3 linked regions of the Homo sapiens genome follow. Each later gene encodes a partner of the first gene's protein in a complex. Each region holds a gene or a part of one and is shown in the gene's direction. Other genes may lie near its edges. The genes, in order: GNA13, S1PR2 and ADGRD1.

Region 1 (7,104 bases):
TTTTAAACAAAGGTATGAGGGTGCTGGTTGATGCTCGAGAGAAGCTTCATATTCCCTGGGGAGACAACTCAAACCAACAACATGGAGATAAGATGATGTCGTTTGATACCCGGGCCCCCATGGCAGCCCAAGGAATGGTGGAAACAAGGGTTTTCTTACAATATCTTCCTGCTATAAGAGCATTATGGGCAGACAGCGGCATACAGAATGCCTATGACCGGCGTCGAGAATTTCAACTGGTAAGAGATTTGCTCTTTTAAAACGTGTGGTTTTATTTTAATGATGTTTAGTAATACAGGTTGCACATCCCTAATGCGAAAATTCGAAATGTTCCCAAATCTAAAAGTATTTGAGATGGAGGAACAGACTGAAAGGCTAAGGCACAGACCTAATGTGTCCTAGTCTCTAATGACTACGTGTAAAAATAGTGTATAAAATTACCTTTAGGCTACATATCTTAAGGTATATATGAAACATAAATGAATTTCTAGTTTAGACTTGAGTCCCATTCCCAGCATATCTCATATGTATGCAGATATTTCAAAAATCTGAAAAAATTCAAAATCCAAAACACTTCTGGTCCCAGGCATTCGGATAAGGGACACTCAACCTGTATCTGATTTTAGCACACTTTTTTCACTGACTTCCATAATTTAATGTATCTATCCAAAATTATAGCCTCAGAAATTTGTTTTTTTGTTTTTGGGGGGTTTGTTTTGAGACGGAGTCTCTGTTGCCCAGGCTGGAGTGCAGTGGTGTGATCTTGGCCCACTGCAACCTCTGCCCCCAGGGTTCAAGCAACTCTCCTGCCTCAGCCTCCTGTGTAGCTGGGTCTATAGGCGCGTGCCACCACACCTAGCTAATTTTTGTCTTTTTAGTAGAGGCAGTTTCGCCATGTTGGCCAGGCTGATCTTGAACTCCTGACCTCAGGTAATGTGCCCACTTTGACCTCCCAAATTGCTGGCATTGTGCCAGGCATTTTTCCCCTTTTTTCTTTAACGAGACTACCCATAAAATGCTTTGTAGCTGTTACACAGCATTGAAGACAGGTTTGGAATAAAAGTATCCAATCCAGGTTAAAGATACAGAATACAGTTGAAACAAATTTTTAATCAAGTGTTTTGTAATTTAACTGTGAATGCTGTGATTGGGTTTTATTTGCCAAAGATCAGAAAGATTCCAGCAGTGATAGAAATCTAGACTGTGTGCAATTTGGAGGTAGTTCAGATCTGAAGTGTTTTACTCTAATATGATTAAAATGAAGTGACAGTTAAAAGTAAAACTGCTGGCTGGGCACGGTGGCTCATGCCTGTAATCCCAGCACTTTGGGAGTCTGAGGCGGGTGGATCACCTGATGTCAGAAGTTTGAAACCAGCCTGGCCAACACGGTGAAACACCGTCTCTTCTAAAAATACAAAAATTAGCCAGGTGTGGTGGCAGGCACCTGTAATCCCAGCTACTCAGGAGGCTGAGGCAGGAGACTCGCTTGAACTCTGGAAGCGGAGGCTGCGGTAAGCCGAGTTCGTGCCACTGCACTCCAGCCTGGGCAACAAGAGCAGAACTCCATCTCCAAAAAAAAAATAAATAAGCTGCTTAGGAAGTTGTTTGATGATGTCACCAACATTAATCCACATTAATGGGTGTGGCTGCAAAGCGATGTACAACCAGCAGTCCTTGCTGTTATTATTTATACTTAGAAGCAGTCTTGCCTTTTAAAAGTTCCAGGAAAGTGTTCACGATAGCTTTTTATAAAACTGACACCTTAATTTTGACTATATCTGAATTATGGCTTTTATATCTGTCATTCAACTAGCATTTGATTATTTACCGTCTTGTATAGTTCTCTTCTATCATGTTTGTATCTTGTCTTTTCAAGTAATGTGTTTATTTCTGAAAGGCAGGGACTGTCTCACATTATTGTTAAAATTACGTAGCTGCCAGTATTGCATGTTGAAAATGATGAATTTAACTTGACAAATGACCTCCATCCAATTCCCAGATTTCTGGTTAGTTTTGTCCCTTGATCAATGTTTATTACTTTATTTTTGGTAGATTTGCTTGCATGAGTTCTTCCATATACCCCTTTCCATCGCCCATCACTCTACCTCCTGTTTTTTGTTTTTTTGCATTTTTTTGAGAGTTTTGTTCTTGTTGCCCAGGCTGGAGTGCAGTGGCGCGATCTTGGCTCACCTCCGCCTCCTGGGTTCAGGCGATTCTCCTGCCTCAGCCTCCCAAGTAGCTGAGATTACAGGCATGCGCCACCACACCTGGCTAATTTTGTATTTTTAGTAGAGACAGTGTTTCTCCATGTTGGTCAAGCTGGTCTCTAACTCCTGACCTCAGGTGATCTGCCTGCCTTGCCCTCCCAAAGTGCTGGGATTACAGGCATGAGCCACTGTGCCTGGCCATCTACCTCCTGTTTTTAAGTGCTGCTTATTCTCCTTTCTTCTTAGTTCATTTTCTCAACAAACCACACACTTTCAACTCAATTTTGTCAGGCTCTATTCATCCTTCCAGGTCAGAGAAGAAACATTCATCTGTAATAAGCATACAGTGCATATGGATTAAATGAATAAATAAAGAACTGCATACCTGAAAGTTCTCTGTGGGGAAGTTCCGTATTTGCCCTAAGTCCATTTAATTAAAGTTGTGTTTCATGGACAGTTTTTTAATTTGGAAGCTGACGTCTAACTGTCTCACATCAGGACTGTCATGTCCTCATTGTTGAGAAAGCATCCCTAAGTATATCTTTGTGATTAAGAACGAATAGGTAAAACCACTCAGGATGAGGACCTGCTTGTTGTTGACTTGAGCCAGTTGATCCTTAAGGAGCAAAGAAGTCCTCAAAGATGAGGAGAGATAAGTTCCAGAAATACTTTTTTCCATGATGAAAAGTAGAGACAAGAAAAGAGGAACAGAGCAAGACCTAATTTTAAACTTCTGGAGGACAGAGATTCTTTTTTCCTGAGTCTACGCTCAGCATTGTTTTTTGTTTTTTTGTTTTTGTTTTTTAAGAGAAGGTCTCACTGTTGCCCAGGCTGGAGTGCCCTGTTGTGATCATAGCTCACTGTAGACTCAACTCCTGGGCTCAAGTGATTCTCCAGCTTCAGTCTCTCAAGTAGCTAGGACTACAGGTGTGTGCCGTCACACCCAGCTAATTTAAAAAAAAATTTTTGTAGAGACGGAGTCTTGCTATGTTGCCAGTGCTGGTCTTGGACTCCTGACCTCAAGCAGTCCTCCTGCCTTGGCTTCCCAAAATGTTGGGATTATAGGCATGAACCACTGTGCGTGGCTTCAGCATTGTTAATAGCACCTGACACATAGAGATGCTCCATTATTATGTTGACTTAATGACTCTTAAACTCTTGGATGTGCTGTGGTGCTTGGCATAGTGTCAGGCACTGAGAAGGCACTTGGCTTACTTAAAATTTTCCTCAAAGTCATCATCAATTCCATCTACTCATCTACATGCAGCAGCTCCCCAAGTTCTGATTTTTCTACCTCTGTAACGTCTCTTGCATTCATTCCCTCCTTTCCTCTATTTTGTGTTCTGCTACCTCTTGCTTGGACTCCAAGGCAGTCTTGTTCAAACACAGCATTGGTTTGCTCAGAAAGCTTTGGTGGCTCACCATTGTCTTCAGAACAGAGCTCAGCTTTTTTGTGGGAGTAAAGACTCTAGCTAGCTTACCTGTGATTCCAGCAATATATTTCATTAGGCCACTGGACATACTCTGTAATCTCTTGATTCCCACATACCCTAATTTTTTGCTTCTATAGCTCTCATCATGCGTAGTCCCTCTGCCAGAATTATTCTTTACCCTATCTGTTACTAGGTCTTACCCTTCACTTAATGTAGTGATAATCACACTAAATGTGGCCCATGGACCCCATGGACTGGAATGCTTGTTAAAACAAACAAGCAGATGCTCAGACTTTATACCTGAGGATCTGATTCTGGATTCTGGGATGGGACCCAGTGATCTGTGTTTTCAGCAAATAGCCATAGGTGGTTTGGATGAATTTGCTCCATGCCCCCTCCCTTTCCCCAGGAACAGTGCCTTAGGGGCTGTGTCTCTTTATTTGAAGCATCTCCAGTCTTCTTGGCTAGAATGGAGATCTCCGTGTCCTTTGCTTTCCCTAGCATGCTTACTCCTGTCACTCCTCACAGTACCCATTATGTGTGTTAGAGTCACAGCTTTCATGTGTGGCTGTCAGTCATGTAGAAGTCCTTTGGTATGCCTAGTTTGTCTTTTTCTCTCCTACTAGCATAGTGCCTGACACTTTTATTTCCTCGTTTTTCAGACATTCTTAATTACAAAGATGTTCTAAAAAAATAAAATACCTGTAATCCCAGCTCTTTGGGAGGCTGAGGCAGGCAGATCACTTGAGGTCAGGAGTTGGAAACCAGCCTGGCTGACATGGTGAAACCCCATCTCTACCAAAAACCAAAACCAAAACCAAAAATTAGCCAGGCATGGTGACATGTACCTGTAGTCCTGGCTACTCAGGAGACTGAGGCACGAGAATCGCTTGAACTCAGGAGGTGGAGGTTGCAGTGAGTGGAGATCATGCCACTGCACTCCAGCTTGAACGTCAGAGTGAGACCCTGTCTCAAAAAAATAAAAATTAAAAAATATGTAATATAATTTAATTCTACATTAAGTTCCTTCTGGGAAATATGGATTATTTCTATAATAGTTTCCTAATTTTCTAGGAAGTGGACAGTTCTTGTGTAATTATAATTTTTATTTGGGGGGGTTGAAATGTGTTTTGTTATGTTTAGCAGCATATTTTTGAATTTTGGATAGGAAAGGTAAACATCAGAAGAAATAGAGGTTAGCAGATAAAATAACTAAAATTAAAATTAACCTTTTCGTTTCAACTAATGATTTGATTATTAAACTTATTAATGCACATTAAAAACTGACAGGTTTTAAGGCCCTACATGACTTAACATTTTGCCTAAGATGAACAACTGCCCTTTAATCAATTTTCGGGACAAGGGATAGGGTGTTGATAACACAGCTTAGGTTTTTAGCAGACTACTCATTTGTTAGTAATAACTTTGGGTGTAAACATGAATGTTTTTCTTTCTAAGTTCCCAAAGGTAAACATTTCCTTTTTTGGTTAGTTCCATCATGGGTCAGCTAAATAGCTTACTGTGGAAAAGAAAAATACAAGATTCACATTCTCGTTATAACTTAAGGTACCTTTCTAGTTATTATAAATTAGCATACTGAGGATAATAGATTGTAAGAAGTGGCCTGTTTTAGTACTGAATTAAATATTTGAAATACTCTACTCTGGCTGTACATTCAACATAGCCTGCCACTGCACTTTTGAGTTACCCTGTCTTTAGAAAACCTTCTTATGTGACAATAGCTAGATAATTTGGTAACTCAGATGAATAAAGAGATGGGAGTCAGGGGTTGGCTGGATGATACAATTGGAGATATGGATGAAAACTGACAAAATGGCTAGGAGTCATTTCCAACTATTTTTTTTTGTTTAATTTATATTCACTTATTGAGAAATAAGGCAACACTTGTTACGTAGGACAGGACAGTGTGTGTGACAGTGGGAGGAACATCCCACAGCTTCCTACTTTCTGTAAACAGTTTAACATTGTCAGCATTAATACAACTTCCTGTAATGGCCAGTCTGTCTTTGCAATTCCTGAAACCAAAGTGTTTTTGCTAATCATGGTACCTTCAGTTAGACTTAATTCTTTTCTTTTTGTGCTTGAGGTTACTCTTCTTGAAGCCGATAAGATAGTGTATTCATTAACACAGAGATTTACTCCCTCAATCTGTGTAACAAAGTAACCATTTAGCTCCATGATTGGCCTGTAAAAAGGGGAGGTCCAACTAAGTATTCTAGAAACTTCAGTTTCAGCTAATTTTTTTTATTTATTTATTTGCACTGCAGCATGTATTGGAAATATAATACAATCAAGAGTCATTTGAAGCTCCTGTAGTCCCAGCTTCTGGGGAGACAGGAGGATTGCTTGACCTCAAGAGTTCAAGTCCAATGTGGGCAACATAGTGAGGACAGCCCCCTCCCTCTTAAAAAAAAAAAAGAATCAGAGTCATTTATTAATTAATGCTAATTTGGATTTGCTTTAAATATTAAAGAATTGCTACTTTCAGTTGTAAAATACTATGTTTCTTTTGGATGATTGGTCCATTTTCTCTATAAGTATAGTCAAGCAAGGACTTTGAGTTGCTAAAAACCTATTGGTTATCTTTTGATTCTAGGATTAGTGTTAAATATTTCATCCCATCTAAAATAAAGATTATATATAACATTAGAGATAGTAGAGGTTTTTATCTTACTTTATTAATATTTTTTAGAGACAGAGTCTCACTCTGTTACACAGGCTGGAGTGCAGTGGTGTGATCATAGTTCACTGTAACCTTGGGACTCCTGGGCTCAAGTGATCCTCCTGCTTCAGCCTCCTAAAGTGCTGGGATTACAGTAGTGAGCCACCTCACCCAGCCAGAGATAGTAGAGATTTTAAAGTTGAGTTTAATTTCCTTTTGATGAAATTGATCAGATGTCAGAGTGGTTACATTTTATCCAAATCTTGTAAACCCAGAGCTTTATGTTTATTTACGTTAAAAATGAAGTTTTTTTCTTTTTAATTAATTTCTTTTTTAAAATTTCCGTCAGTTCCTTTAAGTTTACACTTATAGTTTTAATACAACTTTGTGAAGTGTGTGTGCATGCACACATAGGTGGTATCACTTGTATTCTATTATGTTGAAATTTTCATGTTCGCATTTTTTTGGGTGAAAACTTGACTGGCTGTAGGATGTCTGGGTTCTTGGTGCTAAAGCTTCCGGAATTGGAAAATACTGTGCTGCTTTCTATATTACCTTTTATTGCTAAACAAAGCTAGGGGCACAATAATTTATGATTCTCTGAAAATGTTTATTAAACAACTAAGAGATGGAACAAGTAAATAGTTTTGTTATGAAAAGTAGACTTTAGTTTCAGAACTCTTTACCTAGAGCGTGGACCTAACCCAGGAAAAAGGTTTGTGAGCTTACTTTAAAGAAAAGCATAATGGCCAAAGGACTCCTTGGATTGAATGTTCCCTGC
Region 2 (7,782 bases), on another chromosome or scaffold:
CAGAACCCAGCAGACCCTGAAATCGAGCTCAGGAAAAGGGGCAAAGTGTAGAATTGACTAGTCACTTTCTGACTTTCTTTGTATCCCCCCTTCAAAGCCCCATCACCCTGTGTTAGAATTGTCTGGTTTCGGCCGGGCACGGTGGCTCACGCCTATAATCCCAGCACTTTGGGAGGCTGAGGCAGGTGGATCGCCTGAAGTCAGGAGTTCAAGACCAGCCTGGCCAACATGGTGAAACCCCATCTCTACTGAAAATACAAAAATTAGCCGGGTGTGGTGGTGTGCGCCTGTAATCCCAGATACTTGGGAGGCTGAGGCAGGAGAATTGCTTGAACCTGGGAGGTGGAGGTTGCAGCGAGCCGAGATCTTGCCAGTGCACTCCAGCCTTGGCGACAGAGCGAGACTCTGTCTCAAAATAAATAAATAAATAAATAAATAAATAAAAATAATTGTCTGGTTTCTTCTCTGTCTCCTCCATCAGACTGTCAGCTTTGGATGGCAGCAACCAATTAGGCATCACCAGGCTTAGCACAGAGCATTACATGTTGTGTTACATACACACATATATTGCATGCCTATATGTAGCATTAACGTGTTGATTTTTTTTTTTTTTTTGAGATGGGCTCTTACTATATTGCCTGGGCTGGTCTCAGATTCCTGGCCTCAAGCAATCCTCCCGCCTCTGCCTCCCAAAGTGCTAGGATTACAGTTGTGAGTTATCGTGCTTGGCCTGTTGATTTTTTTTTTTTCCAGACAGTGTCTTGCTCTGTCAACTAGGCTGGAGTGCAGCAGTGTGATTTCAGCTAACTTCAACCTCCACCTCTCAGGCTCAAGTGATCCTCCCACCCCAGCCTCATGAGTAGCTGGAACTACAGGCACACACAACCATGCTTGGCTAATGTTTAATTTTTTGTTTTTTCTTTTGTAGAGACGAAGTCTCACTATATTGCGCAGGCTGATCTCAAGCTCCTGGGCACAACTGGTCTTCCCACCTTGGCCTCTCAAAGTGCTGGGATTACAGACATGAGCCACTATCCATGACCAATTTTTTAAAATTTTTAATATATTTTTTGAGATGGAGTTTCACTCTGTCGCCTAGGCTGGAGTGCAGTGGCACGATCTTGGCTCACTGCAACCTCCACCTCCCGGGTTCAAGCAGTTCTCCTGCCCCAGCCTCCAGAGTGGCTGTGACTACAGGCACCTGCTACCACGCCTGGCTAGTTTTTTGTGTTTTTTTTTGTTTGTTTTTTTGTTTTTTTGAGATGCAGTCTCACTCTGTTGCCCAGGCTGGAATGCAGTGGCGGGATCTCGGCTCAGTGCAACCTCCGCCTCCTGGGTTCAAGTGATTCTACTGCCTCAGCCTCCCAAGTAGTTGGGACTACAGGTGTGCACCACTGTGCCCAGCTAATTTTTGTATTTTTAATAGACACCGGGTTTCACCATGTTGGCCAGACTGGTCTTGAACTCCTGACCTCGTGATCTGCCTGCCTCAGCCTCCCAATAATTTTGGTATTTTTAATAGAGATGGGGTTTCACCATATTGGTCAGGCTAGTCTCGAACTGCTGAATTCAGGTGATCCCCTTGCCTCGACCTCTTTGTACATTTTTTTGAATTGGTAATAGAAGCTAAAGATTTCAAACAGCAGGCTGGGCGCAGTGGCTTATGCCTGTAATCCCAGCACTTTGGGAGGCTGAGGCAGGCGGATCACCTGAGGTCAGGAATTCGAGACCAGCCTGGCCAATATGGAGATACCTCGTCTCAAAAAAAAAAAAAAAAAAAAAAAAAAGATTTCAAACAGCCCTCCAGGGTATACCATGAAAAGCTGTTTCTTCTTACCTCGTTTCCCTGCCCCCTGGTTCCTCTCCCTAAGAGTAACTGTTGTGACTAGGGTCTGGTGCCTTCTCCCAGAGACAGACTGTGTGTCACAGGCAAATGTGTGTGTATTTATATAGTTCTTATAAATACACCCAGAAATGCAATGCATACTGGTCTACACTGTACTTTTTCAACTTAATATGTTGAAGACCATTTCCCATCAGTACACACAAGACTACTCCATTTATTTATTTAGTTTTATTTATTTATTTATTTAAAATGGAGTATTGCTGTGTCACCCAGGCTGGAGTGCAATGGCATGATCTCGGCTCACTGGAACCTCTACCTCCAGGGTTCAAGCAATTCTCCTGCCTTAGCCTCCCGAGTAGCTGGGACTCCAGGCACACACTACCATTCCCGGCTAATTTTTGTACTTTTAGTACAGATGGGGTTCGCCATGTTGGCCAGCCTGGTCTTGAACTCCTGACCTCAGGTGATCCACCTGCCTTTGCCTCCCAAAGTGCTGGGGTTACAGGTGTGAGCCATTGCACCCAGCCTCTTTATTTTTATTTTATTTTTTGAGACGGAGTCTTGCTCTGTTGCCCAGGCTGAAGTCCAATAGCACCATGTTGGCTCACTGCAACGCCCGCCTCCCCGGGTTCAAGCGATTCTCCTAACTCAGCCTCCCGAGTAGCTGGGATTACAGGCGCCCGCCACCACGCCCGGCTAATTTTTTGTATTTTTAGTAAAGAAAGGGTTTTGCCATATTGGCCAGACTGGTCTCGAACTCCTGACCTCAAGTGATCCACCCACCTTGGAGTCCTAGAGTGCTGGGATTACAGGCGTGAGCCACCATGCCCAGCCAATTTTTATATTTTTTGTAGAGATGGAGTTACACCATGTTGCCCAGGCTAATCTAGAACTCCTAGGGTCAAGCAATCCACCCACCTTGGCTTCCCAAACTGTTGGGATTACAGTCGTGAGCCACCGTGCCTGGCCAGATTATGTTTATAACATATAATGTCTACATTTTCACAAATGGTACCCTCATAAAAAGCCATATTTCCCACCTGAACATAAGATCCACTGGGTTGGCCAGGCACGGTTGTTCATGCCTGTAATCCCAGCACTTTGGGAGGCCAAGGCGGGCAGATCATGAGGTCAGGAGATCGAAACCATCCTGGCCAACATGGTGAAACCTCCATCTCTACTAAAACTACAAAAATTAGCTGGGCATGGTGGCGCATGCCTGTAATCCCAGCTACTCAGGAGGCTGAGGCAGAAGAATCGCTTGAACCCGGGAGGCAGAGGTTGCAGTGAGCCGAGATAGTGCCACTACATTCCAGCCTGGCGACAGAGCTAGACTCTGTCTCAAAAAAAAAAAAAAATCCATCTGGTCAAGGAGTTTTTCCTTTTTGTTGCTGTTGTTGTTGTTCACTGCTGTGCCCAGTAGGTGCATAAAAAATATTTGTTGCCAGGTGCTGTGGTTTACATTTGTAATCCCAGCACTTGGGGAGGCCGAGGCAGGCGGATCACTTGAGGTCACGAGTTCGAGACCAGCCTGGCCAACATGGTGAAACCCTGTCTTTACTAAAAATACAAAAAAATCAGCCAGGCGTGGTGGCACGCGCCTGTATTTCCAGCTACTTGTGAAGCTGAGGCACAGGAATAGCTTGAACCTGGGAGGCAGAGGTTGCAGTGAGCTGAGATGGCACCACTGCACCCCAGCCTGGGAGATAAAGGAAGACTCTGTCTCAAACAAAAAAATTTTGTTGCTGGAATGAGGGGCTTTCCTATCCTGTTGTCGAACTGCTGGTTACACACACACACACACACACACACACACACACACACACACACATCATTCGATGAAGGTGTAGTGTCCATCATTTCCGCAGGCAGGCACACAGAAATGCCCAGGAATTAGTGAAAATTGGAAATCTGGATAGAAGACTGGGCCCGACGCTGGAAGGCAGGCACAAACTGGGCCCCGCCAGAGGGGACAGTGATCTACAGAGGCAGGAAAGAGTGTGGAGTGTCCCCAGTCCCCCAAGGGAAACAGGGCAGCACCTGAATTCTGGAGGTCCTATCAAGGGAGAGACTGGTCAGGCACAGTGGCTCACGCCTGTCATTCCAGCACTTTGGGAGGCTGAGGCAGTAGGATTGCTTGAATGCAGCAGTTCAAGACCAGCCTGGGCAACACAGCGAGACCCCATCTCTACAAAAAACTGCAAAAAATTAGCCAGGCATGATGGCGCACCTGTAGTCCCAGCTACTCTGGAGGCTGAGGCAGGAGGCTGAGGCTCCCGTGAGCTATGATTGAGCCACCACACTCTGGCCTGGATGACAGAGCAAGACCATGTCTCAAAAAAAGAAAAAAAAAAAGAGATCAATTTTGTCTTTGGGACAGGACATCGCACTTAGTAGGAATTTATTTGTTGGGTGGACACACAGTAGGCACTTAATGCCTATTTGCTGCGTTGACACCTAGTAGGTACTTCCAAGGCTCTTTGTTGAGTCAATAAATGTGACCTCGTGTTTTCTTCCAAGTCCAGGGTCCCAGGGGTAAGCCCAGAGGTAACCTGGGGTTGAAGACAGTTGTTTCAGGTTGAGGCCACCTGGCCAGGAGTACTGTGACGTCACCAGGCTGCGTGACGTTTCGCGCCGGCCGGTTCTCACGGGTGGGGGCTGGGAGGGGCAGAGTGAGAGATCGGGTGGGGGGGGCGGACAAAGGGCCCTCCGTGCAGCTCCTGTCGGCCCCCGCGTGCGCCCCGGCCAGCCGGCCGGTCACATCTGGAATTCATTGCAGCCGCCGCCGGAAAGGGGAGGAGAGGAGGGCGGGGCGAGCGGGGGGCAGAGGCGGCGGCTCTCCGCCCCCCCCTCTGTCCCTCGTCCCAGCCCCGGGACTTAGCCGAGCCCGGCTGGCAACCCCAGCCCCAGCCGCGGCCGCCCTGGGGACGCAGACGCCAAGGCCCCTCCGGCCAGGGCCGGGAGCCGGGCCGGCCTAGCCAGGTGAGCGCGCGTGGCGACAAGGAGGCAGAAAAGGCGGGCCTGGTCCCCTGAGGTCTCGGGATCCGAGCTGAGGGGCCCCAATCGGGGGGCTGGGGCGCGCACGCGCCGCCTGGGTTCCTGCTGCACGGAGCGGGTGGTCACAGTGCGCCCTCTCCAAGAATCCGGGCGGCCCCCACTGCCTCGGCCGCGAACCCGCAGACTGTGCTCCCCGCCTTTCTCAGCGGCAGGAAGTTGGCGCCGGGGAGAAGGCTGAATCCGAGCGCTTTCGACTGGAGTCTTTGGGAGGCAGGACGCCGTGCTCGGGGACCGGGGTCTTGGGGAGTGTGTTTGGGGGGGGGCAACACCCCTCCTGGCTGACTCCGGCTGAGCGAGGGCAAAAGGATGTGCGCGCCGTGGAGCCTCCAAGCCAAGGGGCGGCACCCACGGGGAGGGCGGTCGGACGTCGGGCTTTCTGCCTCGGTTTCCCCAAGTTGTTTGCCTCCTCCGGTCCCCCGGCGGGGGGCGTGGCTTTGTTTTGTAAGGAAAGAGAAAGTGACTGCGTGGCTCAGACGCCTCCTCTTTCAACTCCGGCTCAGGGATGGGTCGTGGGTGAAGGCGCGCGTGGCGCGGACCTCGCGTGGCCCCGAGCCGGGCGGAGCGTCGGAACTCGCCCCCTTCTCAGGCACGGGTTGACTCACCCGGGGATTTCCACCCCCTCCTCTGTCTCTGTCCTTGTCAGATGCTCCGGGCCCCACGCGCTGAGCCCACAGTCCCCCTCGTGGGGCGACACGGCCAGGCGCGGAACTCGCGGTGCAGCTGCTGCTGCGATCTGGTCCCCCACCCCCAGTCTTCCCAGAATCTCGAGGCGGGACCCCTGGCGGGACGGAGAGGAATCCTTCCAGTGCCGCTTGGAGACGTGGGGGCCCCGCGCGTGTGGCGGTCTCGGGGGCGGGGGGGAGAGGAGGCGTGGCTCCCGCGCGAGCGAGCGTGGATACCGCGCATTCCTAAACCAGATAAGGAGGCCGAGAGTGCGGGCCAGCACGGGGTCGGGTCCTGCTGCCATCTCCATGGAGACACGCTGGGCTTTGCCTGGTTGATGGTGGGCGATGGGGGCGCTGCCCGCGGACCAGAGGTGTCTCCAGGCTCCTTTGTTGCTGTTTGGGTCTGGGCTGAGCTTAGGAGTTTCCACCCTTGGGAACCCACTAGGGTCTCCTTTGTTCATTGGTTCATTCATTCATTCATTCATTTGCCCATTCCACACGTTTTCTGAGTGTTTTATTTGTGCCAGGCATCCCTGTAGGGGCTGATAACTGACTTGCTCCCTGGCCTTAGGCATTGACTGTCTAGGTGGAAGCCAGACAGAAAAGGAAAGATATCATGATAGTTTCCCATAGTGGCAAGCGCTGTGCAGATAATAAAACGAGATTCTGTGATTAGAAAAGGCTTGGAGATGGCTGCTATTGTAGACTGGGGGTCAGGGGAGTCCCCTCTGAGGAAGTGACCTTTAAATAGAAAGGTCACTTTCTATAAGGTAGGGTGGCTACCACGGGCTCCATGGGTGACCAGGGGGAACTGTAACCACAGGGCCTGCCTTTCTGAAAGATGGGGAGACAGTCATTCAAAGATTTGAGGAAAGGCCAGGCGTGGTGGCTCACGCCTGTAATCCCAGCACTTTCCTAGGCTTAGGCAGGTGAATCACCTGAAGTCAGGAGTTCCAGACCAGCCTGGCCAACATGGTGAAACCCCATCTCTACTAAAAATACAAAAATTAGCCAGGTGTGGTGGTAGGCACCTATAATCCCAGCTACTCAGGAGGCTGAGGCAGGAGAATCGCTTGAACTCAGGAGGCAGAGGTTGTGGTGAGCCGAGATCACACCACTGCACTCTAGCCTGGGCAACAGAGTGAGACTCTGTCTCAAAAAAAAAAAATTTTTTTTTTGAGAAAAAGAGTGTGCCCCAAGAAGAACAGCAGGGGTAAAGGCTTGGAGGTAGGGGTAGGGGTAGCATGGAGGAGGTTTAGTGTGGTTGGAGTGGAATGGCCCTGGGGGAAGAGTGGGAGGAGGCTTCATCGGCAGGGGCCATCCTACTTGGGCTATAGGGAGCCATGGAAGAATTTGGAGTTGGGGAGTGACATGGAGTTACAAGTTTAAAAGCTCCCCCTGGCTGCTTGGTAGAGAATGGCAGGGTAGGGGGTCCTGACAACCACAGAGAAACCAAAAGGTAGGGTGGCTACCACGGGCTCCATGGGTGACCAGGGGGAACTGTAACCACAGGGCCTGCCTTTCTGGAACTGGGAGTGGGTGGAGAGGACCTTGGAAGCCACTGAGGCTTCCTCCATCCTTCCCCTCTCCTAATCTCCAGACAAACAGTCGTCTGAGTCTATCTCTCTTCCCTTCCTTCCAAACCCCATCACTTGTCCCTCCTGTTCCATTTCAGGCCTGGACATTCTATGTGAGCCCAGTGGCCTCTTTCTGAGCTTCTGAGAGGGAGTCAGGGCAGACTTGGTGAAGGTGACCGGGAGACAGGCTCTGTGTCCTTCTCAAAACCTGGTAACCTTACACAGGGAGGGGACATGGGCTAGGCCACGCCATCCACCTAGGGGGTGACTCTTCTGCCAGCTCCAACCTCAGTGCCCTGCTTCCTCTTTCTGGGAGGCGTCAACCGCCCAAGTGCTTGCCTCAGTAAAGTCCTAGTGGTTAAGATGAGTCTTGGATAGAATGTGGGCCTCAGTTTCCCCTTCTCTAGGAGAGCTGCTTCTCCCTCTGTGAATGCCTTAGCCTCCCCGGGCTGCAGAAGGTGAGAGTGCAGCACCCCCAGTCTTCCTCTCAGGGAAAAAGACAGACTGCTTAGTTAGTCCCTGGGGTGCAAGGGCTGAACACATTTCATTTTGTTTTGTTTTGTTTTGTTTTGTTTTGAGACAGTCTCGCTCTGTCACCCAGGCTGGAGTGCAATGGCTGCGATCTTGGCTCACTGCA
Region 3 (7,104 bases), on another chromosome or scaffold:
CTTTCCTTCCTTCTTTCTTCTCTTCTCTCTCTCTCTCACTCTCTCTCTCCTCTCTTCTCTCTTTCTCTCTTTCTTTCTTTTTCTTTCTGACAGGATCTGTCATCCAGGCTGGAGTACAGTGGTGCAATCACAGCTTACTGCAGCGTTTAACTCCAGGGCTCAGGTGATCCTCCTACCTCAGTTGCCCAAGTAGCTGGGATTACCGGCATGTGCCACCATGTCTCACTAGTTTTTTTTTTTTTTTGGTACAGGTGAGGTCTTACTTGGTTGCCCAGGCTGGTCTCAAACTCCTGGCTTCAAGCGATCCTCCCATCTCAGCCTCCCAAAATGCGGGTCGTTTGTTTTCTTACTGTTGAATTTTAAGAGTTTTTGGGTGTATTTTGGATAATAGTCCTTTATCATGTCTTTTCCAAATATTTTCTCCCCATCCGTGACTTGTCTTCTCATTCTCTTGACAGTGTCTTTCACAGAGCAGACATTTTTAGTTGTAAGGAAGTCCAGCTTGTCAATTATTTCTTTCATGGATTGTGCCTTTGGTGTTGGATCTAATAAGTCATCACTAAACCCAAGGTCATCTAGATGTTTTTCCTATATTATCTTCTAAGGGTTTTATAGTTTTGCATTTTATATTAGACCTATAGTCCATTTTGAATTAATTTTTATGACAGGTTTAAGATTTTTTTTTTGTTTTTTTTGAGATGGAGTTTGGCTCTTGTTGTCCAGGCTGGAGTGCAATGGGGCGATCTCGGCTCACTGCAACCTCCACCTCCCGGGTTCAAGCAATTCTTCCTGCCTCAGCCTCCTGAGTAGCTGGGATTACAGACACCTGCCACCACGCCCAGCTAATTTTTTGTATTTTTGTGGAGACGGGGTTTTGCCATGTTGGCTAGGCTGGTCTCGAACTCCTGACTTCAGGTGATCCACCTGCCTCGGCCTCCCAAAGTGCTGAGGTTACAGGCGTGAGCCACTGCGTCCGGCCAAGATTCTTTTTATTTTTTGGAACGTGGATATTCAGTTGTTGCAGCACCATTTGTTGCAACAAATGGTTCTGTTTGTTCATTGTACTGCCTTTTCTCCTTTGTCAAAGATTGGTTGACTGTATTTTTATTGGTCTATCTCTGGGCTGTTTATTCTGTCCCACAGATCTATTCATCTGTTTTTTTCCAATGCCACACTGTCTTGACTACTGTAACTTTTTATAGTAAGTCTGGAAATTGGGTAGTGTTGTTCCTCCAATGTTGTTTTTCTCCTTCAATATTGTATTGGCTATTCTGGCTCTCTTCCTTCTCCATAGTTTATCAATATCCACAAAATAACTTGATGAGATTTTTATTGGGATTGTGTTGAATATATAGATCAATTTGGGAAGAACTGACATCTTCACAACATTGAGTCTTTCTGTCCATGAATATGGAATATCTCTCCATTTATTTAGTTCTTGTTTAATTTCTTTCATCAGAGTTATATAGTTTTCTTTATATATAGCTTATAAATGTATTGTTATAATATATGTATTTCTTTTTCCTTTTTTGGCACCAATGACAATGGTAATGTGTTTTTTAATTGTAAATTCTACTTGTTCGTTGCTGGCAGATGGGGAGCAATTGACTTGTATATTAACCTTGTAGCCTGTAATCTTGCTATGCTCACTCATTAGTTTCAGCTTTGTTGTTGATTCTTTTGGATTTTCTACATAGACAATCACATCATCTGTGAATAAATATAGTTTTATTGCATCCTTCCCAATATTTATATTCTTATTTCCTTTTTTTTCCTTTTTTGCCTTATTGCATTAGTTAGGACTTTCAGTACAATGTTAAAAAGGAGTGGTAAAAGGGGACATCCTTGTCTCGCTCCTGACCATTTTTTCTTAACTGAGCTTATGGTCTGATTGGTTGGCACTTGTGCCCTGCCATTTTTCAAATATTTTAATCACACTTGCTTGTGGGCATTTGAATTTGTAACTACTATGTTAAAATAACAAGGAGTCTCCTTGAACTGCTTCTGGAATTTAGGGCATAAGGACAAAAAGATAACATCCTTCCTGTGCTCCAAAGGACTGGGGAAAGTCAGGTCTGTGTTATACCTTGTATTAGGACGCACCACAGTTAACAGTGATTGATCACCTTAAGAAAGAAGGATGTGCCTACAAACAGGAAAAACCTGTGCATGGGGAGCTCATTCCCACAGTACTCAGAATGGCGATCTTCACTCTTTTCCAGGCCCCTATTGGACTCATGTCCTATTTACATGGAAATCCAAGGAGGGCCTGAAAGTCTACGTCAACGGGACCCTGAGCACCTCTGATCCGAGTGGAAAAGTGTCTCGTGACTATGGAGAGTCCAACGTCAACCTCGTGATAGGGTCTGAGCAGGACCAGGCCAAGTGTTATGAGAACGGTGCTTTCGATGAGTTCATCATCTGGGAGCGGGCTCTGACTCCGGATGAGATCGCCATGTACTTCACTGCTGCCATTGGTCAGTGAGTGTGAAGGGCTGGGGCAGATCCGCTGTCTGTTCCCAGGGTCACCCTGGTATCGGCCTCCTTTCTCCCCACTCTCCCGTTGCAGCTATCAGCACTGCAGGCGTGAGATGTGTCCTAATGAACCTTATAAACACAGTTGTGTGTTAGAACACCTGTTCCCTGAGATAGAGGAGTTAATAATTTACTAGAGATGCTTTGAGATGAATATTGTTCTGTTGATCATCACGGGGTTTCAAGGTATATGTGATGGACGATTATAGAAGGCTTTGGAGAGCAAGTATTCCAGATCCATTAGTGTTTTTGATCAACAAATGTTAGCCGTGTGCCTCCCAGGGGATGGGCCCTTGGAAAGCCCCGAAGATACCTCTTCCTATTCAGCACAGGGCAGTTGTTCGGGGCAGGGGCCTGTGGGTAGGTGGACTGGGGTTCAAATATTCATTGTGCCATAATGAGCCGTGAGACTTTGGGAAGTCATTTTTAAAAACTGAGGTCAAATTCATATATCATAAACATAACCATTTAAAAATGAACAAGTCAGTACACTTGGCACATTCACGGTGTTATGCAGCTGCCACCTCTACCTGGCTTGGAAACATTTTCATCCCCCCAAAAGGAAACCCCGCACCCGGTGAGTACAGTCACTCCCCGCCTTCCCCTCCCCCAGACTCTGGCAACCACGAATCTACTTTCTGTCTTTACCTATTTTGGAGATTCCACATAAATGGAAATGTGTAACGTATAACCTTTTTGTCTTAATCTCTCAGATTTTTTTTTTGCTCTGTTAAATGGATAAAAATACTCCCTTTCTGGGGGAGGTGTTGATAATAAAGGCCATTAGCACAATGCCTGGCATATGGCAAGAATCCAGTGGTTCTTAGCTGTTTTTAAAATTAATATTCATCTTTCCCCTACAATTCCATTTTCATGCTGCCCACAAGTGAATGCACCATTTTTTCCCCAATGGGTTTCTTTATTTCCACATAAAATAATCTGCTAAAAAATGACAGACCCCATGTAGGCACTCACAAACATGTGGCTGCTGCTTCATTGGGACCCAGCACAGCGGATGTCAGGACCAGGAGAGAAAGGCCTGAGTTCCAGACGCTGCCTGCCCTCGTTCCGCTTCTGACGTTGAGTCCCTCAGTTGTTAGGACCCTATTGATTGCATGACAGAAAACCCAATTCAAGATAACTTTAGCCAAGAAAGCCATGTGTTTCTTTTTCATCTCTTGCAATGGAAGCTCTAGGGGAAACTGCTTCAGAACTGGTTTGGTCCAGGTGCTCACATGATGTCAGTGGGAATCTCTGCGTTTGACCCTGCCCTCTTTTGTTAGCCTCCTCCTGGTGCCAAGGTGGCTGTCATGCTTCTAGTGTTGCATCCTCTGCCCTCAGCAGCCTCTGTGGAAAAGAGGGAGCTTCTTTCTCTTATCACTTCCCATGCTGGGGCTGGGCAGGACTCACATTGGCTCACATTTATCCATGCACCTTCCATGAGTCATTTTCTGTGTCTGGGAGTGCAGAATATGCTGACTGGCTTAGGTCTCTGTCATAGTCCCCCATCCCCAGCCCCCCTGAAATGACAGTGAGGTCAGCCTTGTCCAGAACATGTGGAGGAGAGGGGACTCCCAGGGGACAATCAGGTATGCTGGTCTCAGAAGGAACAGATGCTGTGCAGGCAAAACAGCCTGTGTCCACTACAGCCTTCGACATTTACATCTTCCAGCTTCCACCCAGGAAAACGGAATGCATTCCCTCTCCTAGCACTGACAGAGGGCAAATGATAGCATCCTTCAGAAGAAAAAAATGGACCAATCTACTGCATTTTATTGCCTAGGGTTTAGAGTTGTCACTTTGAAACCAAGATATCACTTGTATTTATGTTATGAAAAGCTTCAAACAAAGCCTGCCCTCCTGACAGTTTACTTGTTTTAGTAACACTGGAAAGAGGTGCCCTTGTTTCTGGTTCTTGTTCTTGTCAGAGCAAACCCTCATCGCCAGAACCAGAACTGAACCAGAACTGGATCGACCAGAATCCCATTGCACCTGGTGACCTGGTCTGAAGACAAGGCATACGACGTAAAGCATGTATAGGAGAATGGCTCTTGAAGTCCCTGGAAGGCCTGTGTGGGGCCCCGTGTACCACTGCTCAGTGAGTCTGACACAGCCGAGTTCAGGGCAGCCATGCAGAGTGACAACTGGAACTGAAATCCAGTCTGCTCCCAGCCAGGCCGGGCCTCGGTGGGGACATGGCCACACAAGTAGGTAGAAGTCTTTCTTTACATGAAGACCTGTCTGCATTTGAAGCTGTGCTGGGGCTGTAGGTGCCCAGAGGGGGCTTTTTTCTGAGTGACCTGGGCAGAGGTGACACCTCCTCTAATCTCATGAGCCAGAGCTGGCACCATTTGCTGACCGGTCCGTCCAGGTGTGGTGGCCTTTCCTGATACAAAGGCACAGTGCTGACCGTCTGTCACCCTGGCCAGGTGTCCCCTCTCCCTTACCACTGGAATGGACAGCAGCTCTTTCTGTAGAGGAGGAAGAAGGTTATGTTCAGATACGTGTAATCGGAAAGCATGTACCTTTGGGCACTGGAAACACACTCAACACGTGGGAACTGGGACCGACTGAGGACCTGGCAGATTCTCATTTTCACCCCAGTCTCCATGGTCATCGCTTGCAAGCGTTGGCAGGATCGCTGGACCGATTTTCACTATCCCTCACTCTGCTTTGTGGACACACACGAGTTAAATGTGAGTTTGACATGACTCCTCTGTAACTCATTGGCACCTGAGGAGTGAATGTCACTCTGACTTGGAGAACAGAGCGGTTCTGGGGTCCAGTTCTCTCGGCAGCGCCACACCTTCTGCGTTCACCAGCAGCCCAACCCCACCCAAACCCAAGGGCTCAGTCACTCCTGCAGCCAGCAAGGGGTGATGATGTCATTTCCTCAGCTCATCCAAAGCAACTTCAAGAGATTTTCCAAAAATGAAGTAGAATATCTGGTTAAGTGTGTGTTCTCATCAGGAAATAGTGGGATTAGAAATAGTTGGGGGTGAACAGGCAGAGAACAGCAAATCATGGCTTAGTCTTCAGCCTTAAATGTCTTCATTGTTTGTAATAATTCATCATTAACCCCATGGGGGCTGAGTGCAAAGAATAGCTGGAATCCTTGGGCTAGAGGGGGCTCAGGAAGACAGTTTTCTCCACTGCTTTACTGGGGCCTATTCTCACTTCATCGATCTCAGAGGAGAGCGCTCCCAGGGCTCCTGTCTGTGCTGGCCCAGCGAGTTGTAGCACTCCTCATTTTATCTCCAACCAGTCTGGATGCAATTGAAATCTATTTCTTTTGGTTCTTTATTTATTTGAAATCGGTAATCCTTGTATAAAATCATCTTTTGATATGCTGACTTGCATGAAGGGTGTTCAAAAGCGATTGAGAATACAAATGGAAAAGTAATGTGACCTGGGAAAATCTATACGGTCGACTCAGTCAGCTGATTTCTTAGCCCATAATTTATCTCCAGCAACATTCCTACTCAAAACATTCTCAGACTCTCTTCCATGTGTCTGAAGCCAGTACATTTTTAACAAGGACAGGTCTTCCTCGTGGTGAAAAAAGTGACCATGTTTTAGTCCTTAATCCAGCATTGTTTCTTCCAGGAAAGCATGCTTTATTGTCTTCAACGCTGCCAAGCCTCTTCATGACATCCACAGCAAGCCCCGTGGTGAGCAGACACATCTTCCTTGGTCCCCCTTGCTGATGTTCTTCTGCTTGGGCTGTTTGCTGGGAGAGAGAAAATTCCATTAGGTGTCTGGGCTCTCTGTTATCGGCAGTACATTGTCTGGGAAGAAATAACAAATGGAGGGGAAGCCAACTGCAGTACTAATTCTTGGTGCTAAGAGTGACTGAAGGGAAAACTCTCAACTCCTGCCACCAGGAACCTCAGGTGCCCAAAAGGAAATACCGGGCTCATTCATGGGACGTGGGCGCCGTGAGTGGGGAGTGAGGAATCTGCCCTGCTTGGCTTCTCTCTATGCCCTTTTCGTTTGATGTTAGAGAAAAGTTCAATTCATATAGAAAAATTCTTGTCTGGAATTAGTGTTTGTAGTTAAAGAACTGTCCTTTCTTGAGAACGTTAATATAATAGTGAGTGCACAGACTCTGACCCATCTGCTTGGGTTCAAATCCAAGTTCTACCACTTATTTTTGAGTAAGCCTCTCTGCGCTTAGTGTCATCCATCAAATGGGGACTTATTTTGTAAGGTTGTTGTGAGGATGAAATGTTAATATAAGCAAAATATTCACAAAAGTGTCAGATACATGGTAGGAGCTATATTACTATCATGGTATAAAAACATTTGACCAGCTGGGTGTGGTGGTTGCACCTGTAGTCCCAGCTGCTCAGAAAGCTGAGACAGGAGGACTGCTCGAGTCCAGCCTGGGAAACACAGTGAAACCCCATCTCTATAAATAAAAAAAAGAGCAGCCAGGCACAGTTGCTCATGCCTGTAATCCCAGCAATTTGGGAGGTCGAGGCAGAAGGATCACTTGAGGTCCGGAGCTCGAGACCAGCCTGGCCAACACAGTGAAACCCTGTCTCTACTAAAAATACAAAAATTAGC

The links.
Region 2: the proteins of GNA13 (region 1) and S1PR2 are in contact, whole or in part, in a cryo-EM structure (PDB 7T6B), measured with the Homo sapiens proteins. Residues at the interface, in NP_006563.2 of Homo sapiens: Arg47, Val216, Phe359, Lys363, Asp364, Ile366, Leu367, His368, Asp369, Asn370, Leu371, Gln373, Leu374, Met375, Leu376, Gln377; in NP_004221.3 of Homo sapiens: Ser66, Met68, Tyr69, Leu72, Arg130, Ala133, Ile134, Lys136, Val137, Lys138, Leu139, Tyr140, Tyr209, Ile212, Val216, Ser219, Gln227, Thr228, Leu231, Leu232, Val235, Tyr288.
Region 3: the proteins of GNA13 (region 1) and ADGRD1 are in contact, whole or in part, in a cryo-EM structure (PDB 9V0U), measured with the Homo sapiens proteins. Residues at the interface, in NP_006563.2 of Homo sapiens: Val49, Val216, Phe218, Phe359, Val362, Lys363, Asp364, Ile366, Leu367, His368, Asn370, Leu371, Gln373, Leu374, Met375; in NP_942122.2 of Homo sapiens: Asn599, Arg601, Leu657, Met660, Val661, Ile662, Val664, Phe665, Ser667, Val737, Ile738, Ile741, Ala761, Val764, Asn810.

The regions. Positions count from the first base shown.
Region 1 is NC_000017.11:65,046,637-65,053,740, reverse strand, and holds part of GNA13 (guanine nucleotide-binding protein subunit alpha-13), read left to right. Parts: intron 1-12; coding exon 13-239; intron 240-7,104. UniProt on the Homo sapiens protein: Guanine nucleotide-binding proteins (G proteins) are involved as modulators or transducers in various transmembrane signaling systems.
Region 2 is NC_000019.10:10,228,250-10,236,031, reverse strand, and holds the start of S1PR2 (sphingosine 1-phosphate receptor 2), read left to right. Parts: upstream 1-4,700; 5' UTR 4,701-4,828; intron 4,829-5,546; exon of another isoform or gene 5,547-5,619; intron 5,620-7,782. UniProt on the Homo sapiens protein: Receptor for the lysosphingolipid sphingosine 1-phosphate (S1P). S1P is a bioactive lysophospholipid that elicits diverse physiological effects on most types of cells and tissues.
Region 3 is NC_000012.12:130,984,873-130,991,976, forward strand, and holds part of ADGRD1 (adhesion G-protein coupled receptor D1 isoform 1 precursor), read left to right. Parts: intron 1-2,222; coding exon 2,223-2,477; intron 2,478-5,753; exon of another isoform or gene 5,754-6,141; coding exon 6,142-6,206; exon of another isoform or gene 6,207-6,265; intron 6,266-7,104. UniProt on the Homo sapiens protein: Adhesion G-protein coupled receptor (aGPCR) for androgen hormone 5alpha-dihydrotestosterone (5alpha-DHT), also named 17beta-hydroxy-5alpha-androstan-3-one, the most potent hormone among androgens. Also activated by methenolone drug.